3 linked regions of the Homo sapiens genome follow. The protein of the gene in region 2 interacts with the protein of the main gene of each other region in a pairwise test. Each region holds a gene or a part of one and is shown on either strand. Other genes may lie near its edges. The genes, in order: PTPN20, AATK and PPP3CA.

Region 1 (3,654 bases), on a different chromosome or scaffold from region 2:
TTGGACCAGGCTACAAGAAAAAGAGACCAAATTCAGAATGATGTTAATGATAAAGATATATATATATTTTCTACCATAATGGAAGCCCAGAGATAGGAAGGATTCCAGGTTCAATATGATCAGTTGCTAATGTCATCAAGAACATAGTTTCTTTATGTTTTTCACATTTGCTATACTCTTTCCTTTTATGGCCATAAGAGGGCAGACTATGATAATTAGGTCCTTATACTTCTTTGTTTATGTGTGTACAGAGGGATGAGGGTAGAAGAGAGGTTTGCTTCTCTTTTTTACAAGACCAGCCTATTTCTATGGTTGGCGCAAATCTCCTACCTATTTCTGAATTATTCACTGGAAGGATCTTACTATGGAATGATCACAAATGGCTTTAACTAACCAGAGGGGTAGAATCGGTGTTGGGGAGTCAACACCAGTGTTTGTTACAGTCATTCTACATTTTCATTTTTTTCTCTCTTCATTCTCCCAGCTTTTGTACTAGCAAAGGTGGAACACAATGGGAAGATCTAAGGGTTTTTCTGTTGGGCATCAAAGATGATCAAAATGGCTTCTACGCTTGTGGGAATTTTATCTCCCCTTCCAGCCTGCTTAGACCTCCTCTCATACTAAGGTTAGGGATATTTGTGAGAAATTTTAGGATTTCTGTGCCTGTCTATCCCAACCAAGAGCCCTCACTTCCAACCCTACAAAGAGCCTCTGGATATAGTGGAGTACCAAGATAAGATGTGCTTCCCAGGAATGTGCAGATTCTTAGAAATTTCCACCTCTTTCTTTTGCTATATTGTTTTGTATATATCTTTTTGCTGGTATTAACTTGATTATTGTTCACATTATTTGGCTTTGCAAAGAGATTATGAGAACTTGTTTTACTTGAACATCTTACCTCAAAATTTTGAAGCTTTTAAAATACTCTTTTACTGTTGACTTCTAGATTTATTGCATTTTGGCCAGTGGACATAATGTATAAAATTTCAGATGTTTGGAACCTTGACTGTCAACATTACCTAAAAGATCATAATTAAAAATAAAAAGATTGTATGTGTGCTATTAAATATTAATAGAATGTTCTCCCCAATTATTGGTTGCAAGTGTCCATATGTATCCATTATTCCATCTTATTAATTATATTGCATAGATCCTCTCCATCCTTGGTGTGTGTGCACGTGTGTGCGTTCATGTTCAATCTGTTTCAGAGTAATGAAACAGGACGTGAACTCTCCACATCACCACATCTCAGACTCTAGGAACTTCCAAACACTTGGTCCCAGGGAGGGCAAAAGTTCTCTTTCCTAATCCAAGCCTTGTACGTTCTTGCCTTGGCATAATTTTCAATCCATATACCCAATTCACATTATAAAACTGAACACTTCTCAATCCACAGCATTCGTTATGTTTATGGCACTGAACAGTTTTCTCCAAGGGCAGTGGATTTTGTATAATTTCAAGGTGTAAATAGCCATGATTTTTCCAAAGGAAGCCTCTTTCAAAGTAGTAGACTCTTCACCCGTGGAAAAATAAACTTCTGTTTACCCTTAAATGGCTGTGTCTTTAAGAGAAACAGAAACAAAAATAAAATCTCCCTTCACATATATACCAGTAACTTACATATGTGAATTTTTCTCTTCCTTAGATACGCGCAAAATTGTTTCTGAAGGAGAACTAGATCAGTTGGCTCAGATTCGGCCATTAATATTCAATTTTCATGAGCAGACAGCCATCAAGGATTGTTTGAAAATCCTTGAGGAAAAAACAGCAGCGTATGATATCATGCAGGAATTTATGGTAAATATTTTCTTAACGAAAGTCTATATGTGATTTCTTTTTTTATATCATTGCCAGAGGGTTTCTTTTCTTTTCTTTCTTTATTTGGTTTTAGTACATTGTTTTTACTTTTAAATGTTATATATATTTTAAAGTAATAGATGTACGTGGTTAAAAAAAAAGCCAAATAGCATAAAAGGATATAAAATAGAAAGTCTCTCTCTTTCTCTCAAGACTTTCTAGGGCCCCTTTACACTATTCATTTTGTCATTTTGTCATGCAAACTTTTAAAAAAATTTGTTGGAATGCACTTTACATCCTTAAATTTGTTTTCCTCCTAGATACAATTTCCAAGTATATTATCAGCATGTATAGCAGTATCTCATTTTTTTAAGTGTTGCATGGTAATTATATGGATAAGTACCTTAATTTATTTAATATTTAATTTCTGAAATTAGGGTACTTATCCATATAATTAACTACCATGGAACATTTGGACATTTAGGTTGTTCTAGTCTTTGCTATTATGAACAGCGGTCATCTCTCTTCATATACTGTATGCATATATTTAAATATTTTTTGAACAAATTCCTAGAAAGACAATATTAATATTTTGGGCTATCAATTTTTTGGATCTTTTCTCATCTCTTAAATGACAAATTATTTCTTATTGATTACTTAATTGGTATTTATTTGAGAACAAAAGAATATCTTTCCATATGTTTTTAAGCCTTTTATATTTTCAGTGAACTGCTAGTTTCAATTCTTTGCCCCATTTTCCTTTTTTTTTTTTTCTTATTGGTTACTCTTTTTTTTTTTGAGATGAGTCTTGCTCTTGTCCCCCAGGCTGGAGTGCAGTGGTGCGATCTCGGCTCACTGCAACCTCCGCCTCCCAGGTTCAAGCGATTCTCCTGCCTCAGCCTCCCGAGTAGCTGGGATTACAGGTGCCTGCCACCATACCTGGCTAATTTTTGTATTTTTAGTAGAGACAGGGTTTCACCATGTTGGCCAGGGCTGCTCTCAAACTCCTGACCTAAGGTGATCAGCCCACCTTGGCCTCCCAAAGTGCTGGGATTACAGGCGTGAGCCACCGCGCCTGGCCGATTACTAACTCTTTAAGGAAAAAATTATGCCTTTGTGTGTCTTACACGTAGTATTTTTTCTGCTGTTGTTTGTGTTACACACAGGTGCACATGCATGTGCACACACATGCCTATTTACCATGAAGAAATAGCTGATTTTTAGTGGTCAAATATGGCAATCTTTGCTTTTGGGGCTTCTGGGTTTGGGGCTTTCTGTGCTCTTTAGGAATGCTTCTTTTACTCTAGGATTGTAATAATTACTTCATGTTTTTTTCTAGTACCTTTATGATTTTTAAGCATTTAAATCTTTGATGCAGCTAGAATTTAATTTGGTATAAGATGTTTGATAGGGACTCAGCATTATATAACTATCCAGTTGTCCCAAGACTCTCCTGGAATTTCTCTTGAGTGAGGTAAAATGCCACTTTTATCATATACTAGAGCCTTACATATATTTTAATTTATTCTTGGACTTTTTCTACTGATTTTCTTATTCCTTTATTGGTATTGTTCTGTTAATTAGCATAGCTTCATATTATCTTTTAACATCTAATGAGACTCATCTGCCATCATTATTCATTCATAAATGAATTTTTTCTCATTCTTCCTACAGAATTTTTTCCAGATTAATTTTAAAATTGATTTTCAGAAAGACTTGATCATTTTATTGTACTACTTAAAACCTTCACAGGCTCCTTGTTCCCCATGGCAGCGGTTGCTAGGTTGGCTACACAAGAGTTACCCAAGAGCTTTGAAAATGTATAGATTTTCAGGCTTTCTCCACAAATATTCTAAT
Region 2 (3,654 bases):
GTGGCTTGAGGCCGTTGTGGGATGGAGCTGGGGATGCCGTCCTCGGTGTGAGGATCCTCCGACGAGGCCCTGGTGCTCGGTGGGGCCCCTCTGGCTTCCCTTCTGCTCTGCTTCTGGGAATTCTTAGTGACTCTGAACAAGGGGCCTTGGGTTCCCTTGGTACTTGGTCCTGCGGATTCTGCAGCCGGTGGGGCTTGCTTAGGGTTTGGGCTCCGCTGTGAGGCCCACGTGGAATTTCCTCGAACCCCCTGCGAAAAAGGCGTGTGGCTTCCTAGTGACCACGGCACACACAAGTGCGCTCTGACCTCCGGGGTGCGGGTCCGGGGCTTCCCCGCATTGGATTTACCCGCGCGGCAGCACGCCCAGCCCCCGAGAGTCCCCGCCACTGCCCCCAGGACTGCTACCTGGCCGGTCACTCGCAGGCCGCCGGCGCCCTCCCAGCTGCCCCATGTTGGGGATCTCGCTCGCTCTCTGTGAATGATGCTCAGTTGTGGGCTGTCCCGTGGGCTGCTATCGTGGACGCTGGAGTGAGGGCCCCTTTACTGAGAGGTAACTCACATACCAAGGACCCACCTGTGTCAAATGAGCAGCTGGGGCTTTCCTGCATTCCCAAGAGTGCAGCCATGGCACGGCTAGCTGTGGAGCATCCCTGCCCCTGACAGAAGCCCCATGCCCGAGGGCATCACTCCCCATCCCCTGCCCCCAGCCCTGGCAGCCACCGATCTGTCTCGGTCTCTGGGCCCCTGGCCTGGACGTCTGTCTCATAAGCAGGGTCCTGTGGCCTTGTCCTCTTTGGGCCCTGAGGTTTTCGCTGTGTGTATAGCGGCCCCAGGGATCAGGGGTGCTGGTGTGTGACTGTGGGGCACTGTCCAGGGAGCTTCCAGGAGGTGGTGCCATTTTGCCCCCATCCCCATGGACGAACGCCTCCATGGCTTCCCCTCCCGCCAGTGCTGGCTGCTGTTTTTATAACGCCCGGGCTCGTGAGCATGTGGGGGCTGCCCATGGTGGTCTTGTCTGCCTTTCTGTGGCGAAAGATGTCAGGAGCCTTTCCAGGTCCTGCCCAGCTCTTCTGAGCCCCTCAAGCGAGTGCCCATTGGAGGTATTTTTTGGTGGTTTGTACCTGGTGTCGGGCAGCCCTGGCCAGCTGGCCTGTGGGAGCCAGGCTCGGGGCAGTGGGCAGGTCCTGGACACAAGGCCTCAGGTCTGTGCGCAGTGAGCAGGTGGCCTGCTGCTTCACTTCCCGTGACCCTGTGCAGGGCTGAGCACCAGCAGCTTCCACCCTGAAATGGGCCGAGGTGAGAGCACTTGCGGCAGGAGCCGGCACACGCCCCGCTTTCCTTCCCAGGGAGCTGGGTGCAGACACTGACCAGCACACCGCCAGGCTCAGGCACCTTCTCTCCCTGGGAAGCTGCCTGGAATCTCTGTGGCCCAGAGGCAGGTGTCCCTGAAAGCAGCTCCTGGCCCCAGGGATGAATGACGGGGAGGACGGACCCTGCTCGGACCCTGGCTCTGGAGGCTGGGCCCCGCCCTGCTCTCTGCCGCGGGGTCTGGCGAGATGCTTGGCTGCTGCTGGAGCCTGAACTAGCGCGTCAGACTGTTTTATTTTTCCTTCTGTGACGGGCGGCCCTGCAAGTCTTGTCTAGAAATACCCGTGGCCGGCATGCATCCGCGACGCCCGGCCGCCCTGGCCATGGACCTGCCCGTTTCCTCCTTGGCAAGCCTGAGCCCAGCAGCCCCCTGCTGCTGCCCAGCCAGCACTGAGGGAGGGACTCAGTCCGTGCAGGTCTGTAGGGGGCCAGCTGGATGCCCGGCTGTGTCAGGGCCGGGGTCCTGAGACGCACAGGAGGGTAGGCCCCCACGAAGAGCGGGACCGAGGGCCAAGGTGTTGGGGGACAGTGTGCGTCGAGCAGAGACAGGCCAGGAGCGAAGAGATGGGGGCTGTGGGACCTTAGCTGGAGCTGCCTGCCCCTTGGAGGCTTCTCCACTGTCAGGGATCAGCCTCCTGGGGAACCGGGGGCATTCCAGGTGCCCTTCCCACCCTTGGACCAGCCTTGGGGTAGGCCCTGGGGCATCTGATGCTGATGCAGGCTGGGCCTGGGCTGTGTGTTGTGTCAACAGAGGGGACATTCCTTGTGAGTGTCCAGCTGGTGGAACTCACTTCCGTCCCTGGGCTGGCCTGGGCTGGGCACCCATGTTTGATTGCAGGGTTGGCTGTCGAGGGGCAGGAGAGGCGGACTTAGAGATGCTGGGGTGGTAACCCCCGGGAACTGTGCGGGGGTTCCCTGCAGCAGAGAGTAGGGCTGGTCCTAGCACTGGGGGAGGGCCGGATGCCCACCTTGGGGCTGCCAGCGTGTGCGGCAGGCATGTGCGTGGAGGGGTACGTGTGCGTCTATGAGCAAGTGCAGCCCCAGGTTGGAGGCGAGCGTGTGCATGGGCTGGTGCGGTGCCCGCGGTGTCGGATGGACCCGGCCCGGGCCCGTGGACCTTGCCATGTCCTGGGCTTGTCCCGGAAGCTTACATTTTATGTGGCCTCTCCTAAAAATAACCGTGGCTGGCCTGCATCCTCCTTATCCGTGGACATTCGGGCTCCCCTCTCTTGGCGGGGGCGGTGTCTTGTGACTTACAGCCCCTGCCCTGTCCTCACCTGCCACCCAGAATCCCACGCGGCAGATGGTGCCCACATCTGTCTGGTCTCGGGAGTGACTGTGGGGATGGTTCAGGGCTGGGCACGATGCCGCCACCAGGGCCTGTGGGGGCACCGTTGCTGTCCCAGAGGCTCCTCCTGCCCTCTCTCCCCTGTGTCGGGAGGCCTGTGGGGTCTTGCCGTACCCCGCCCAGGGCCCTGCTTCTGAGTTGGGGAGGGGGTCCTCAGTTTCGTGCCTGACTGGCGATCAGGGCCGAGGAGGGGTCTGCTGGACTGGGCTCTCTGTAGCAGGAGCTGATTGAATCCCAAAAGACACAATCCCAAGTGCCATCATCCTGAGTGTGGAAATCCCAAAAGGTCAAAATTCCAAAAACCGAATTCAGGAAAAAAATGATTTAAAAGATTCTTTAGAAGACATTTAGTCTGGGCGCGGTGGCTCACACCTGTAATCCCAGCACTTTGGGAGGCCAAGGCAGGCGGATCACCAGGTCAGGAGTTTGAGACCAGCCTGGCCAACATAGTGAAACCCTGTTTCTACTAAAAATACAAAAAATTAGGCGGGTGTGGTGGCTGGCGCCTGTAGTCCCAGCTCCTCGGGAGGCTGAGGCAGGAGAATGGCATGAACCCGGGAGGCGGAGCTTGCAGTGAGCCGAGAAGCACCACTGCACTCCAGCCTGGGCGACAGAGCAAGACTCTGTCTCAAAAACAAAACAAAACAAAAAACATTTATTTGCATTTGAAAAGGGATTTATTTGAAAAACATAAAAACTCAATAAAAATAAAAACTTCAGAGGCCACTTCACACAATAACACAGGCCATAGTAACATACATTGTAACATAGTAACATACATTGTAACATGGTAACATACATTGTAACATAGTAACATACATTGTAACATGGTAACATACATTGTAACATGATAACATACATTGTAACAGTAACATACATTGTAACATGATAACATACATTGTAACATAGTAACATACATTGTAACATAGTAACATACAT
Region 3 (3,654 bases), on a different chromosome or scaffold from region 2:
AGTAAAGAAATGATTACTTTTTCTGTATTTTCAACCCCATAACATAAGCAAGAAAAGATCATATGATATCATATAAAATCTGTTGGTTACTGTCTTCTAATGTAATACAAATTATGCCCTGAATAGATAATAAAAATGAAATCTTGCCAAAGCCTAAGAAGGTATGCTTGAGTATCATATTTAATATTTAAAAGGCTGTCATTCAGAAGCAGAATGACATTAAATATTAAATATGAAATGCATAGCAAAACCATGATCAGTGACTGGTAAAGGCAGGTTTAAATGCAACCTGAGAATTTCCTGCAACTTCAAATTGTCTATCCATAGAATAGGTGACCTCATTAAAACAGGTGACTTTTCCTTTATTGAAAGTACTCACAGAGACATGAAGCATGCAGATTTGTCTTCCTGAGTCATGGATGGACATCTTTTTCAGAAATCAAGGATAGAGTCAGATAGAAGCACATTATTTTATGTGGGATTCAATCCAAACATTTTATTTTATTAAGTCAAGAAAGCAGTCTACTATAGGGTAACTATAGTTAACGATAATAGATTATAATTTCAAATAGCTGGAAGGAGAATATTGAATGTTCCAAATACAACTAAATGATAAATGTTTGATATGGTATTTAATGTATAGCTAATTACCCTGATCTGATTACTGTGCATTATATGTGTCAAAACATCACTATGCACCCCATAATTATGTACAATTATTATATTAATTTAAAAAATAAAGTAAAAATTAAAGCAATCTAACTTAAACTATTTTGTACAACTGTTGGGAGTTCTATTGAAGTTTTACTTTTTAAAAATAAATTCATTCAAATATTTGAGGAGATTATTATGTCAAACTTAGCTGTGCCACTTTTATTAGTGTCATCAGATATCAAATTTTAAGACCAAAGTATTCTTGGCTGAAAGGGGAGCTTGAATCAGTTCCTGACAGACATTGGATTAACTATTTTGTGTAAATATTTTCCAATTTGTTACACAATTACATATTAATTATTCATATATTGTGCAGTTATATATTACCCTGAGTAAGGTTTAAGTCCATAAGTTGTATAAGCATTCTGGGATGCCTAAGGTGTGAGCCTGGATGTTTTGGAACTTCAGTCAAATGGTTGAATTTTCTTGATGAGCTAAAGCCATACATAGAAGCAGAAATATGTTCTGTGTTCCTAACATCCTCTTTTGGTTATTTTTAGCTGCAGTATTGAAGTATGAGAACAATGTTATGAATATCAGGCAATTCAACTGTTCTCCTCATCCATACTGGCTTCCAAATTTCATGGATGTTTTTACTTGGTCCCTTCCATTTGTTGGGGAAAAAGGTATGTTGTGGAATCCTGAGATGTTCTTCTTAAAATAGTTTAGGAAGGAAGGAAAGGAGATTAAACACTCAGAAAGAGAAGAACTTTGGCCCAGCCAATAAAATTCACAAGTTGTACAATGAAAGATGTGATTTGGAAGTGGCAGTGTGTCACTCTGTATCCTATTAACAGGACACAATTGGTGAATGAGGGGGAAGCAAAAAAAAAAACAAAACACAGGAATATTTAGGAAATTTTTACAATCTTATTAGAATAATATAACGCTTTAAAAAATAATGGAAATACAGGTTTACCTGGTTTCAAGTAATGTCTACCCTTTTTCCTTACCCATTTGTACTATAATCCCAAAGGACTATTTAATTTTACAAATTATCTGCCAAATTAAAAGATTAGGATAGCCATGCTCTCCTTACATTTCTGATGTTAATAAATTATTGTACGATAGTGCTTAATGGCTACAATATTTTGAAGAACAACATGTACAACAGCAAAGTAGTTCATCAATAATGTAGGCATTAGCGCATTATAAGGTACAGAACAGGAGACAAATTTACATTTTAGAAAGTTATTTGTTAACTTTCTTCCTACCTTCCTTCTTTCCTCCTTTGTTTTGCTTTCATATGTTGACTTAAACCCCAACAAAAATTTTGGGGAAATGTCTGCACCAATTGTTTTTCATTCAGGAGGCCTAACAGTGATACACGGATTGATTCTCATGTATCTTCTCATACTTTCCATGAGAAGGTGAATGGGCATTGTAAGAAAAATAAATGTTCCTATAAGTATCAGAGTAATGATGTTCTATGAGGAGTATCAGAGAAAAGCTAAATATTTTTCTGAAACCCTAATGGTTGTTTTCCCTTTAAATGCCCTAAAATGATTAAACCAGTCAAGTTATGAGTTGTTGGCAAAGAAGCCTTCCCTTTGAATATCAAAATAATCAAAAGTAAATTTTTAATAATCTCTGATAAATATTCCCAATACTACTCCATATTGCAACTTTCTTGCACTGATCAAATTGGAGTAGTGTCATCTGTTGGCTTCGCTGGAAACAGAAGCAGTGTGGATGCTGACAACTATGGGGCACCTTTTGAACATCCTTTATTTGGGTTGTTTCTATTAATTATTAAAATTTGGGACATTTATTAGAAATTAACATATTAATCTATTGGTACACAAAATCCAGTTTTGATAATTAAACTGAAACTCTGGATCAGTGTTGGCTCTATTGAAGTTTGACTCTCTATCATTCATCTTCAATTCTAGAAGGACATTTTTTTAAATAGCATATTACTTTAAAAAGTAGCTCTCAAAGAAGCAGTAGACAGGCTTCTTTTCACATGCATGGTAGAATCCAATCTAATTTCAAAAAATATTAAATGTAAATAGCATGGTTTATAGTATAAAAATAATGCAGTACTAATTTCCTCTGTACAACACTTTTATGTAATCCTATTGTAATCTATTAAGTAAATTTCTGATTAAACTGCAACTGTTTAATTTTTTAAGCATTTTTGAAAATCAAATTTAATGATATTTCTGTCAATACATTTTTAAAATTAGTATTCTGAAAAATACTTCAAATATATTAGTTTATCAATCAACAGTTTGTATTAAACACAAAACCACATGCCTATAATGGCGTGAAGTTCTCTAGGTGATTAAAAATATAAGAAAAATCATCATTCTTAGTCCCTACTGAACAGAAGTTTGTAATCTGATCTAGATTAAGCCTTATCATTGTGTGACTAATAAAAATTCAAAAAAACTATTTTCTCTTTCATTGATTTGTAGTATATTCACATCCACATATTTGATTTGTCATTGTCTATTGACCTAGAGCTAGTAAATGTTACCATTAGATATCATAAGCATCAGCTAATAGTTTCATAAAGTCTGCATAGAATCACAAAGGCTGTCTTTTATGATCTGGATGTTTACTGAAACTGCTTCTATATACAAACTAAATAAGAAATGTTATTGCTAAGTTTGCTCATTAACAATGCCAGAGTAATAGTTAAGGTTATAACAGAAAACCCTGACTTTTCTTTCTTTGCTTTCTCTCTTTAGTGACTGAGATGCTGGTAAATGTCCTCAACATCTGCTCAGATGATGAACTAGGGTCAGAAGAAGATGGATTTGATGGTAAGAGGCTTGAGCCTTTGTGCTAATGCTATTTGCCAGATAATTACTTAGAGTCTCATTGCTAAATCTAAGAATAAATTTCTAAGATTTGGATTATGTTTAAAACGTAACATTATTGAGAATAAAAGATATGATTTCATTTTCTGTTTACTTTTTAAAAGTATAAGAA

Evidence for each region.
Region 1: the proteins of AATK (region 2) and PTPN20 interact in a two-hybrid assay, tested with the Homo sapiens proteins (one study listed by BioGRID).
Region 3: the proteins of AATK (region 2) and PPP3CA interact in a two-hybrid assay, tested with the Homo sapiens proteins (one study listed by BioGRID and IntAct).

What each region holds. Positions count from the first base shown.
Region 1 is NC_000010.11:46,963,341-46,966,994, forward strand, and holds part of PTPN20 (tyrosine-protein phosphatase non-receptor type 20), read left to right. Parts: intron 1-1,645; coding exon 1,646-1,797; intron 1,798-3,654. UniProt on the Homo sapiens protein: Tyrosine-protein phosphatase targeted to sites of actin polymerization in response of varied extracellular stimuli. Has tyrosine phosphatase activity towards various tyrosyl phosphorylated substrates.
Region 2 is NC_000017.11:81,156,108-81,159,761, reverse strand, and holds part of AATK (serine/threonine-protein kinase LMTK1), read left to right. Parts: intron 1-3,654. UniProt on the Homo sapiens protein: May be involved in neuronal differentiation.
Region 3 is NC_000004.12:101,060,918-101,064,571, reverse strand, and holds part of PPP3CA (protein phosphatase 3 catalytic subunit alpha), read left to right. Parts: intron 1-1,214; coding exon 1,215-1,340; intron 1,341-3,410; coding exon 3,411-3,485; intron 3,486-3,654. UniProt on the Homo sapiens protein: Calcium-dependent, calmodulin-stimulated protein phosphatase which plays an essential role in the transduction of intracellular Ca(2+)-mediated signals. Many of the substrates contain a PxIxIT motif and/or a LxVP motif.